Homo sapiens: one gene and its partners. The protein of the gene in region 3 purifies or fractionates together with the protein of the main gene of each other region. This does not show direct contact. Each region holds a gene or a part of one and is shown on either strand. Other genes may lie near its edges. The genes, in order: STARD7, AMD1 and GLTP.

What was found.
Region 1: the proteins of GLTP (region 3) and STARD7 purify together in Homo sapiens (affinity purification with mass spectrometry; 2 studies listed by BioGRID and IntAct, with this or other methods). This does not show direct contact.
Region 2: the proteins of GLTP (region 3) and AMD1 purify together in Homo sapiens (affinity purification with mass spectrometry; 2 studies listed by BioGRID and IntAct, with this or other methods). This does not show direct contact.

The regions. Positions count from the first base shown.
Region 1 is NC_000002.12:96,202,131-96,205,878, forward strand, and holds part of STARD7 (stAR-related lipid transfer protein 7, mitochondrial isoform 1 precursor), read right to left. Parts: intron 1-3,748. UniProt on the Homo sapiens protein: May play a protective role in mucosal tissues by preventing exaggerated allergic responses.
Region 2 is NC_000006.12:110,884,639-110,888,386, forward strand, and holds part of AMD1 (S-adenosylmethionine decarboxylase proenzyme), read left to right. Parts: intron 1-2,866; coding exon 2,867-2,953; intron 2,954-3,697; exon of another isoform or gene 3,698-3,748.
Region 3 is NC_000012.12:109,878,721-109,882,468, forward strand, and holds the start of GLTP (glycolipid transfer protein), read right to left. Parts: upstream 1,822-3,748; 5' UTR 1,655-1,821; coding exon 1,552-1,654; intron 1-1,551. UniProt on the Homo sapiens protein: Accelerates the intermembrane transfer of various glycolipids. Catalyzes the transfer of various glycosphingolipids between membranes but does not catalyze the transfer of phospholipids. May be involved in the intracellular translocation of glucosylceramides.

The DNA of each region.
Region 1 (3,748 bases), on a different chromosome or scaffold from region 3:
CAGCCCCCCTCCCGCCCACAAGCAGTTAAAGCACAGCTCCTAATTTAAGTGAGGTTAGAGACTTCTAGAAGGGGCTTTGCATCTTGAAGATAACACAAAGGCACAGGATCTTGAGGGAGCTGGGAGTCCAGGAGTACAACCAATCTGGGGGAAAGAATGCCAGCAACACTGCTCTAAGTAGATTATTCCTGCTGCAGGTCTTGGTCAACCTGTACCCTGGCCTTGTCAATACTGAGTGACCTAATACCGTTTTGATTAATTCCTTTTTGGCTTAAATTAACCAAGACCAGTTTCTTTGTTACAACCAAGAACCCTGACCAGCTGCAAAACCATAGAGAAACAGAGAAGGAACCTTAGGATAGGCATTTAGATGTTGCAGAAGAAGAGCAAAAGCAAAACCATAGCTAGATTTGCTCAGAGAACAATCAGGCACCATAGGGCATCGATTACAGCATTTTTGAGGTCTATAAAGCATCCTTCAACAATAACTAAGCACAACTCTTGAGTGTCATTCTTTAAAAAAAATTTTTTTCTTCATTGCCCAAGCTGGCCTCAAATTCCTGGGCTCAAGTGATCCTCCAGCCTCCCAAGTACAGGCACATGCCACAACACCTGGCCCGAATTATCATTCTTGCCACATAATAAAGGGGAGCATGTTTCCACTGGTGGAATGTCGTACTAAAACATCAGAGGCTCATAAAATAATTACATAGTTAATAAAGTTTTAAGAAAATTATTAACTATAGGCAACATTTTTTCATGACCTTCTAAGAATCAAGGTGGTTCAGAGCATCTGACCCACTGCTTAATCAAGCTCTCCTATATAATTAAAGGTTACTAGGTGGCTTTGACTAAAATTATGAAAAGGGACGGAAATGTCTTGTGGAGACACAGTATGAATGATAGAGCAAGACTGCTTCACGAAAATGTAAATGATCAAGTTATTTTTTCCCAAGGTTTAGGAATCCCTGAAGGGTCTGAACTTCTAAATGCTAACATGACAAGACCCAATTAACATACAGGAGCACAAAGTCATTCACTAACATATATGTGGAGAAAAGGAAAACCTCTCATGACACATCTCTTTAGGCTGCTGTGCCCAATCTTGTTTGGATGGGATGGGTGGCTAAACCTTCACATCTTAAGAGACTTAAGAGAGGACAGAAGGACAAAAGAGATTATTCCCAAAATAGTAAAATCAGCAGATTAGAAAAAGGATCAAGAAAAGAGAGACCATGCCTTTCTTTCTCCAAAACGAAAATCATTTCAATATCTGAAAAAGGCTGGACCGAAAGCTATAGAAACTGAAAGCAAACAAACCATGAAAACAAAGTAAGTGAAACAACATTTGGTTCATCTAGGGGTCCTGCCCTCAGCATGGAGCTTGGTGTAAGGCTCCAAAATTACTTAAATGAAACCATCCCTACAATTAGGAATTTCAGTCAGACAACAGCCTCACTTCACATAATTCTCCTCCTCTTCAAATTCCAAGTTATTGTCAAAGTCAGGTTCTACTGATACGGGACACACCTAGAAATAAAAGACATAGGAGTCAGGCGCAGTGGCTTATGCCTGTAATCCCAGCACTTTGGGAGGCCAAGGCAGGCGGATCACTTGAGATCAGGAGTTGGAGATCAGCCTGGCCAACACAGTGAAACCTTCTCTTCTAAAAATAAACACACAAAATTAGGTGGGCGTGGTGGGGCATGCCTGTAGTCCCAGCTACTTGAGAGGCTGAGGCAGGAGAACTGCTTGAAACCAGGAGGTGGATGCTTCAGTAAGCCCAGATCACACCGCTGCACTCCAGCCTAGGCAACAGAACAAGACTCCATACCCCCCAAAAAAAGACATAGAGCCAGGCGCCTGGCTCTCAGCACTTTGGAAGGCCAAGGCGTGAGGACTGTTTGAGGTCAGGAGCAGGAGTTCGAGACCAGCCTGGCCAACATGGTGAATCCCCGTCTCCACTAAAAATACAAAAATTAAACAGGCGTGGTGGCACCCCCGCTGTAGACCCAGCCACTGGCAAGGCTGAGGCACGAGAATAGCTGGAACCAGGGAGGCGGAGGCTGCGGTGAGGTGAGATCACACCACTGCACTCCAGCCTGGGCGACAGAGTGAGATTATGTCTTAAGAAAAAAAAGAGTCTGGGCGTGATGTCTCATGCCTGTAATCCCAACTCTTTGGGAGGCCGAGACAGGCGGATCACGAGGTCAAGAGCTGGAGACCAGCCTGTCCAACATGGTGAAACCCCATCTCTACTAAGGATACAAAAAATTAGCCGGGTGTGGTGGCAAGCACCTGTAATCCAGCTACTCAGTGGAGGCTGAGGCAGGAGAATCGCTTGAACCTGGGAGGCGGAGGTTGCAGTGAGCCGAGATCATGCCAATGCACTCCAGCCTGGGCGACAGGGTGAGACTCTGTCCCGGAAGGGGGCGGGAGGGAAGGGGAGGACAGGACAGGACAGGACATCAATTAGCTCATTGCAGTTCTAGGGCAACTAGTTAATGGTAAAATAATGAAGACAACCTCAAAAAATTGAGATCTAATTTTATGTAGCTCTGAAGATCTAACAAGGGGTTTAAGGGTTTACCAGTAAGATACCCTGAAGTGACAATGGCCAAAAAAAAAAAAAAAAGTTCCTTTAAGGCAAAAGGACTTTATGCGGATCATTTATCTAGTCAATAACACACTGAAGTTTAACATATCCCGAATGCCCTGAAAGACAGAAAAGAGAAAATGGCCAATTTTCTTTATGCAACTTTAATGGCACTTATTTACTCAAATTTCTGGAGCAATGAACTGTAACTTTTAAAAAACTATGAGGAGGTTAATGGAACATTTTCCCCTAGCCTTTCATTTCTTAACATCCTTCCTCTCTTTGTTCCTGTAACTTTTCTTTTTAACTGTTCCAAAGCAATCAAAAACATGACTACTGTATTTTTCCATTAGATTTGCCCTGGAATCACAGAATGCCAGCTAGCACCAAAAACAGCAATCCCAAGATATTTTCGTTGTTTAATTTAAGACAACTGGGTACTAGAGCAAGTATTAAAAGATCTGATTTCTACATCTGGCCACAGCAGCCAGTCAAAATCACTTCTCAAATTTTCTTGCTGTTGCTTGATTAATAAGACGCTATTTGGTAAGATGTTCTTAAGCACAAAAGACGAGAAGACAAGTTATGCTTTGTCATTCTGAATAGGACTCAAATAACATAAGGAAAACACATGCCACTTTAAGGCACACATTCAAAAAGACACCCTGCACATTCCACCCGCTTAACCAAAACAGCTATGTTAGAATTAGTTTGTGCCAGGACAAGTTGGTACAGAATCAGCACAGATGAGCCAAAGGCTGTGATTTAGGGGCCATGTGACAATCATGCTCTTTTTCCATTAACAATGAAAGAAATGCACTTGAGACACACTCCAACTGTGCTCCATTATGGAAGCTACCCAAAAATCATCTCACTAGAACAAACGAAATCCAAGATGTTCTAAGCTAGCTATGACAACCTCAGCAGTGCCTACTTTCAAGCAAATAGAATACTTAAACACAAAGCAAATAAGTTAATCTGTACCCAGAATATTTTAATAAAATATAAACATGACAAGCTATCAAAACAAAGACCTAAGGAACCACTGTGCAACCAAGATGTAGTTGTTGAATAGCATATTTGCCTTCCTATCACATTAACAAATATTTTAAAAAGAAAAAAAATCCTCAAGATGAACAACATGATCAAATT
Region 2 (3,748 bases), on a different chromosome or scaffold from region 3:
CCAGGCTGGTCTTGAACTTCTGGTCTCGTGATCCTTCCTTCTTGGCCTCTGAACCACAGTGCCTGGCCACAACAGCCTTTAAAAAAAGAGAAAACAAAAATAAGAAAGGAAAAGACTGTTACACTGTTTAGTTCAGCCATGGAACGTGTTTAAAAGTCTTAATAGAAATGGTGAATATAACTGAGAAAGGGAGGGTGGGATTTGTTAGTGCGTCCAGTGGGTAAAAAGGAGTATGTGCAAGAATAAGTTATAGTGGGAAGTCAGTAGGTGATGACTTAAGCAGGTAGCATTATTGATGGACCTGAATTAGATAAGCTCTTTAAAAATCTGAAATTGTAATGTTTCTAATACTTAAATCATAGTGGATATTTTTATTTACCTTCATATTCAGGAATGGGAGTCTTAATAGTAGATAATTTTTGCAAGGATTTTGTAAATTTATCTTAGTCAAGTGAAGCAGGATTTCATTCCCACGAGTAGTTTGTTTATTTTTTTGAGATGGAGATTCACTTTTGTCGCCCAGGCTGGAATGCAGTGGTGCGATCTCGGCTCACTGCAATCTCCATCTCCCGCATTCAGTCTCCTGCCTCAGCCTCCAGAGTAGCTGGGATTATAGACGCCCACCACTACGCCCAGCTAATTTTTTGTGTTTTTAGTAGAGATGGGGTTTCACCATGTTGGCCAGGCTGGTCTCAAACTCCTGACCTCAGGTGATCCATGCGCCTCGGCTGCCCAAAGTGGTGGGATTACAGGCATGAGCCATTGTGCCTGGCCAAGTTTTTGTTGTTTTTGTTTTGTTTGTTTGTTTTTGAGACGGAGTCTCCCTCTGTTGCCCAGGCTGGTATGCAGTGGCAAGATCTCAGCTCACTGCAACCTCCACCTTCAGGGTTCAAGTGATTCTTCTGTCTCAGCCTCCCGAGTAGCTGGGATTACAGGCGTGTGCCACCACACAAGCCAGGGGTAATTTCAAGGGTTGTCACAGTATATATCCCACATATGTATTCTTTCCATATATGAACAAATTGTTAGCACCCTTTTTAAAGAACCTTAAAACTTTTTAGTAGCTCTTTTAAAAAAGTTGCTTAGTCATGTTATAGTCTAATACAGGAACTCAGCTCTGTAATCATTAGCAAGCCTTTCACATTAAAGATTTTTGGATGGGTATTGGTACGCAGATGGGTCAGTAACAGTTTCTTGTAGCAAAATGGTGAGACAGGCACAAAATTCTACCAGGCATGTTTGGTGTTGTGTTTGCTTTTTAATACAAACGAATAAAAACATTTTGCTGTTGGATTTCGCTCAAAAGGTCTTATCTGGTTAACAAAAGATTTGCCGGCTGGGCACGGTGGCTCATGCCTGTAATCCCAGCACTTTGGGAGGCCGAGGCAGGCGGATCACCTGAGGTCAGTAGTATGAGACCAGCCTGGCCAACATGGTGAAACCCTGTCGCCACTAAAAATACAAAAATTAGCCAGGTGTGGTGGCACGTGCCTGTAATCCCAGCTGCTTGGGAGGTGGAGGTTGCAGTGAGCAGAGATCATGCCACTGGACTCCAGCCTGGGTGACAGAGCAAGACTCAGTCTCAAAAAAAAAAAAAAAAAGATTTGCCATTTTTATGAGTGTAGAGCAATGGCCTGTCAGATATCATAAGGCTTAAAAATTTTTCTTCTTTTTTTAAAGACCAGGGTATTACTCTATCGCCCAGCCTGGTCTCAAACTCCTGAGCTTAAGCCATCCCAATCCCAAAGTGCTAGGATTACAGGCGATTCTCCTGCCTCAGCCTCAGCCTCCTGAGTAGCTGAGATTATAAGCACCTGCCACCACGCCCGGCTAATTTTTGTATTTTTAGTAGAAACAGGGTTTCACCATGTTGGTCAGGCTGGTCTCAAACTCCTGACCTCAAGTGATCCACCGCCTTGGCCTCCCAAAGTGCTGGGATTACAGGCGTGAACCACCACGCCTGGCCTAAAAAATATTTCTGGCAAACAGCTGGGCATGGTGGCACATGCCTGTGGTTCTAGCTACCTGAGAGACTAAGGCAAGAGAATTGCTTGAGCCTGGGAGGTCAAGGCCGAAGTGAGCTGTGATTGCACCACTGCACTTCAACCTGGGCGACAGAGTGAGACCCTGTCTCAAAAAATAATATCTGTCATGTTAAGCTGTTCCATGGAATTACATTGTCTTTTTATAATGGGCACACTAATGAAAGAATGAACACTTTCCTAATTCTATTCTCAGGCAAATTAAGACTAGTTTCTTCATGTCCATATGACCTTCATTGCTATGGTTGCTTGTACTGCACATTTCCTGTTAAACGGGCTTTCTCATTGCATTTGGAGAGCTGCGTAGTATTCCCAAAATCTTCTAGGTATGCTTGTAATTGGCAGTCATTCCAGTTTTTTGTGAGTGCTATAAGAGTAACATCACTCACTGTGTCCCGACAGACAGGCTTTTAAATTTCTATGCCAATTAGATTGGTAAAATTATGCTCTTCTTTTTTTTTAAGTGTTTCTTAAGGTTAAAAATCTGCACATTTTATAGACAAAGTATCCCATTGAATTTCTGTAATCATTGATTAGTTAATGGTTTACCTTGGTTTATGGACCTTTGAACATTTTTTTGCCTATTTTTCTTTAAGTAATTTGTAAATACATAGTATAATGACCAATTTTTGTTTCATATATAGCATAATATACCTATCATTTATCTGGGTGTGTCAATATAGATTATTTTGAAAGAAACTAAAAGTTGGTGTACAATATTAATTAAAAATGTGGTCTTCATGAGAAAAAGTGTGAGCTTTGTAATTTTTATGAGTAGGTGGGTACTATTGTGGATTAATCGTAACTTTTTTGTTAAATGATAGATCTGAGTGGGACATACTTTTGAAGGATGTGCAATGTTCAATCATAAGTGTGACAAAAACTGACAAGCAGGAAGCTTATGTACTCAGGTAAGTCCTGTAAAACAAGTGTTAGGTAGCTAATTTCAGTCCTAATCATAATGTGAAACAGTTAAGTTCCTCTCAGTTGTAGTTCTGGGGGTTTTTTTGTTTTGTTTTGTTTTTTTGAGACGGAGTTTCAGTCACCCAGGCTGGAGTGCAATGGCGCCATGTCAGCTCACTGCAACCTCCGCCTCCTTGGTTCAAGCAATTCTCCGGCCTAAGCCTCCTGAGGAGCTGGGATTACAGGCACCTTCCATCATGCCCGGCTAATTTTTGTATTTTTAGTAGAGACGGGGTTTCACCATGTTGGCCAGGCTGGTCTTGAACTCCTGACCTCAGGTGATCCATCCACCTCGGCCTCCCAAAGTGCTGGGATTATACACGTGAGCCACCGCGCCCAGCCTTTTTTTTACATTATTCTTAAAAATATGGTATAAAAGGAAACATTTAGTGTAACGTGGATGTTTCTAGGACATAGGTTTTGAAGCCTCACCGGACAGTTCAAGGTGTTTGCCGTCTTTTCCTCCCAATTGGTAAAGAAGGACCTCTTAATTAGAAGTTCAGGCAAAGGGAAAGTTAGCTTCTCTATACAAATACAGTTGTCTAATTGGTATATAAAAGCTCATCACCTTTTTTGTAGTTGCAGAGTTAATTTATTCCATAAATACTTTTAATGCTTATAGTATATATTGTGATGGGCCTTGCTGGGGGATACTGGACTAAACAGCCCCTCCCCCCCTTTTTTTTTCTGAGGCGGAGTCTCAGTCTGTCCAGGCTGGAGTGCATTGGCGCAATCTCCTCTCA
Region 3 (3,748 bases):
TGATAATAAGAAAGTTTTGTGCATTCAGCAGTATTGACTGAGCATCTGCTATGTGCCAGGCACTGTTCTGGGCACTGAGGACACAGAGTGGATGTAAAAAACCAAGCCCTTGCTCTCAGGTTGCTTACCCAGGTCTGGGAATCATACACACCAGACAATTGCACTCCCTCAAACACCGATTAATCACTCTAGCAAGGAACCAAAACTGGATTCAGGAACTTAAAACCACACCCCCTACAGCGAAGACCTATTTGGCACTTACGGCCTCGGTACTTTACACACACCACCTCATCGACTCCTCACAGCTGCCCTAGGAGATCAGCATCCCCGTTTCACAGCTGGGGACACTGAGGCTCACGAGGTGAAGGAGGGGAACTATAGCCTCCAGGTAACCACAACCATCCCAGAGCTCAGGACACTGTGGGAACTACCACCCCTAACAAGCCTTCTTTGCCCACTAAGTCGGACTGTCTTAAGATCTCCTGTCTTTGGGTTTCAGGTGGACTCTGCCCTGGGGGCTGGTATTTTCCTGCAAGGCCACCAAGTGAACCAGCAGGACAGGACAGAGCCCACATGGAGAAGGAGAATAGAGGCTCAGGTTGCACCCTTTACCCGGGACCCAAAAGGCAAAGGGCAGGGGCAGTGGTGCTGGCTTCTAGTTCCCATTTTCCATCTGGGGCCTTGGCTGGACTGGGCTAGGCTGAGGGAGTGCGGGAAGAGGGTCTGAAAGTGGACCGCCTTCCCAATGCGCCCAGGAACTTCCACACGACATACAGGGGAGGGGCTTCCTCTCGTAGAGCCCAAACTGAGGGAGGAATTGGTGCCAAGCTCTGTATGTCTGATGTCACCTCACAAAACAGCTCCCCCGACAACCCTCACCCCTGTCCTAAAAGGAGGAAAAACTTTAGGTGGTTTCCCCTAGAAAGAGGCCCTGGAATTTTGCAACTCCATCTTCAAAACCCTCTCCTTGTCCCCGCCTCACCAGGCTTCCTACCCTTGGAGGGGGAGATGGGAGTCTTTGATCTGGAATGGGCGAATTCTGAGGGAAGAAGGAAGGGTTTGTAGGTCCCATGAGGGAGAGGCTGGAAGCGTTCAAAGAGAAGGCTTATGAAATGGGGGGATTCATTGTAAGGGGAGCGAGTTGAGAGCCATCAGAAAGCGCCAGGGATGAAGGACTTTGGGGAAGAAGGGGCAGGAGGCTTTGGGGGAGATGGTGGATTACAGAATGCCTAAGGGAGATGGAAGATCATCCGTGTTGGGGGCACGGATGATCAGGGGGCATTTGGGGGATATGTAGGACTGTGAGGTGTCTAGGGAGAGGGAGGATTTGGGGAGGACAGGCAGGATGTGACATGTTTAGAGCGGAGAGGACTTGGGAGTGGTCCGGGAAAGGGAGAATTTAGGGTGAGTGGAGGGAAAGAGGATCTTGGGTGCCTGGGGAAACAGTACTTAGGGGTGTCTAGGGCAGAGATGGTTAGGGGATGCTCGGGGGAAGGAGGATTCGGGTGCGCGTGGGGCTGCGGGCCGCCTCCCCCCTCCATTCCGGCTCACCGAAGAAGGGCGGCAGGTGGGACACCGCCTCGAGGAAGGGCCCGGTCTCGATCTGCTTGTCCGCGGGCAGCGGCTTCAGCAAGTGTTCGGCCAGCAGCGCCATTTCGGGGTCGAGGCCCGCGGTGATGCCCCAGCCGGCGCCGCGGGCGTCGACACCGCCCCCCCGGCCGCCGCCGTCAGCGCCGGGGCCGTCACAGCCGCCCGCCGCAGGCTCCGGGGACGCCAGCGTCGCCACTTCCGCCCGCACGGCGCCCTCGTAGCCGAGCGCTCAGCGCCGCCCGCCGGCCGAGCGCCTAAACTGCCGGGCGCGCCGCCCCGCCCCCGCTCACCGGCTCCCAATCCGCGCCCGCCGCCGAGGTCTCCGCGCCCCCATTGGCCGGGGGGCCGGCCGGGGGCGGGACGCAGAGGAGGTGCGCCGGTTCATGGGTCCCGGAGGGCCCAAGTGAGCCGCTCCCAGGTGAGTCTTCCCCAGGTGTGCCTCCCGCCGCCCCCGGTTTGGCCCCCCAATCCGGGCGGGCCGACTCGGGCCAGGTCACAGCTCACAACCCGCCCACCAGCTCGGGTTACAGCCCCACCCAGCCAACGCTCCCCAGGACCCCCGTTTCCCCCAAAATTGTACCCCAGTAACCCCAAGTGACCTGGGTGGACACTGCTCTCCTGTTGGTCACGGTTCTCTTTCGCTACAACCGACGAGGACGCTCGATTGCTTGATTCTTGGTCTTCAATGACCTTATACCTGTTGAACACTGCTGAAGTCACAGTCTAACTCAGCCACTGCCCTGCTGGACAACTCCTGCTTCCCGAAATCTGGGGTCCAGTCTGCCCTCAACAGTCTGATGTTACCTGTTGTGAGGCAGAAAAATAGGGCCTGGAGGCAGGGAACATAAGGCTGACTTCCTAGACCTAAATCAAAAAGCACCTTAGCAATGACAGGAATGTAAACGGCTTTGCAACTTCACTTCATCCTCTCCATTCACGCCCTTTACACTTTGTAACTTCACATTCATCCTCTCCATTTACACAGACCACACACTCCAAGAAACATCCTCTCCATTTATACTTTGTAACTTCACATTCATCCTCTCCCACCAAGTAACATCCTCTCCATTTGCACATCCTCTCCATTTGCAATAGGGCACATTCTGAGTAAATGACTCTGTGACTTCACTTCATTCTCTTCATTTACATAGAATATTCACCAAGTAACCAATGGGAAACCTCTAGAGTATTGAGACCCTAGAAAATTCTGTAAGCAGAGCTCTTGAGCCTCTACGCTCAAGCCTGCTCCCAAACTGTGGGGTGGACTTTTCGTTCTCAGTAAATCCTTGCTTTTGCTTTCCTTGCTTCGTTTGTGTGTTTTCTCCAAGATGCCAAGTACCTGGACACCTTCTACTGGTAACAGCTGGAGCCAGCCCAGTTTATACCAATTCACCCACAACCTGGACACTTGTTTCCCAAACCTAATGTCTCTCCAACAGCCCAGGGTCCAGCTTCTCACACCTTGAATCACAAGTCATCTCAGCCACAACCCACCTAGATGCTTATGTCCTAAACCCAATGCCCAGCTTATGCAAAAATCTAACACACCATTGTTGAGAGCCTCTTATTCATTCCAGAATAAACATTTGCCATCCTTCCCACCCCTCCCCCACCCTCCACCACTATGTGTCATGCACTGCACTGGGCACTGAGGATAAAGTGAATGATACAGCAAAATCCCTGCCCTTGTGGAGCTGACAATCTGGTTGGGAACACAACACAATGCAATACACAAATTGGTAAGACAACTTCAGACACTGATGAGTATGTGAAGAAAATAAAACAGTGTAGTGACGGAGGATGACTGAAGCCTGTTGGCTGAGATCGGATGTAGGGGTTTGGGAGCAGTACCTCTGAAGAGGTGATATTTGAGCTGAGACCTAGAGGAGAAGTAGGATAGAGCCAGGTCAAAGACTTGGGGTGTGAGTCTGGCCAACATGGTGAAACCCCATCTCTACTAACAAATACAAAAGTTAGCTGGGTGTGGTGGCAGGAGCCTGTAATCCCAGCTACTCAGGAGGCTGAGGCAGGGAGAATTGCTTGAACCAGGGAGGTGGAGGTTGCAGTGAGCCAAGACCGTGCCATTGCACTCCAGCCAGAGCGAGCGAGACTCCGTCTAAAAAAAAAAAAAAAAAAAGACTTGGGGTGTGAGGCACAT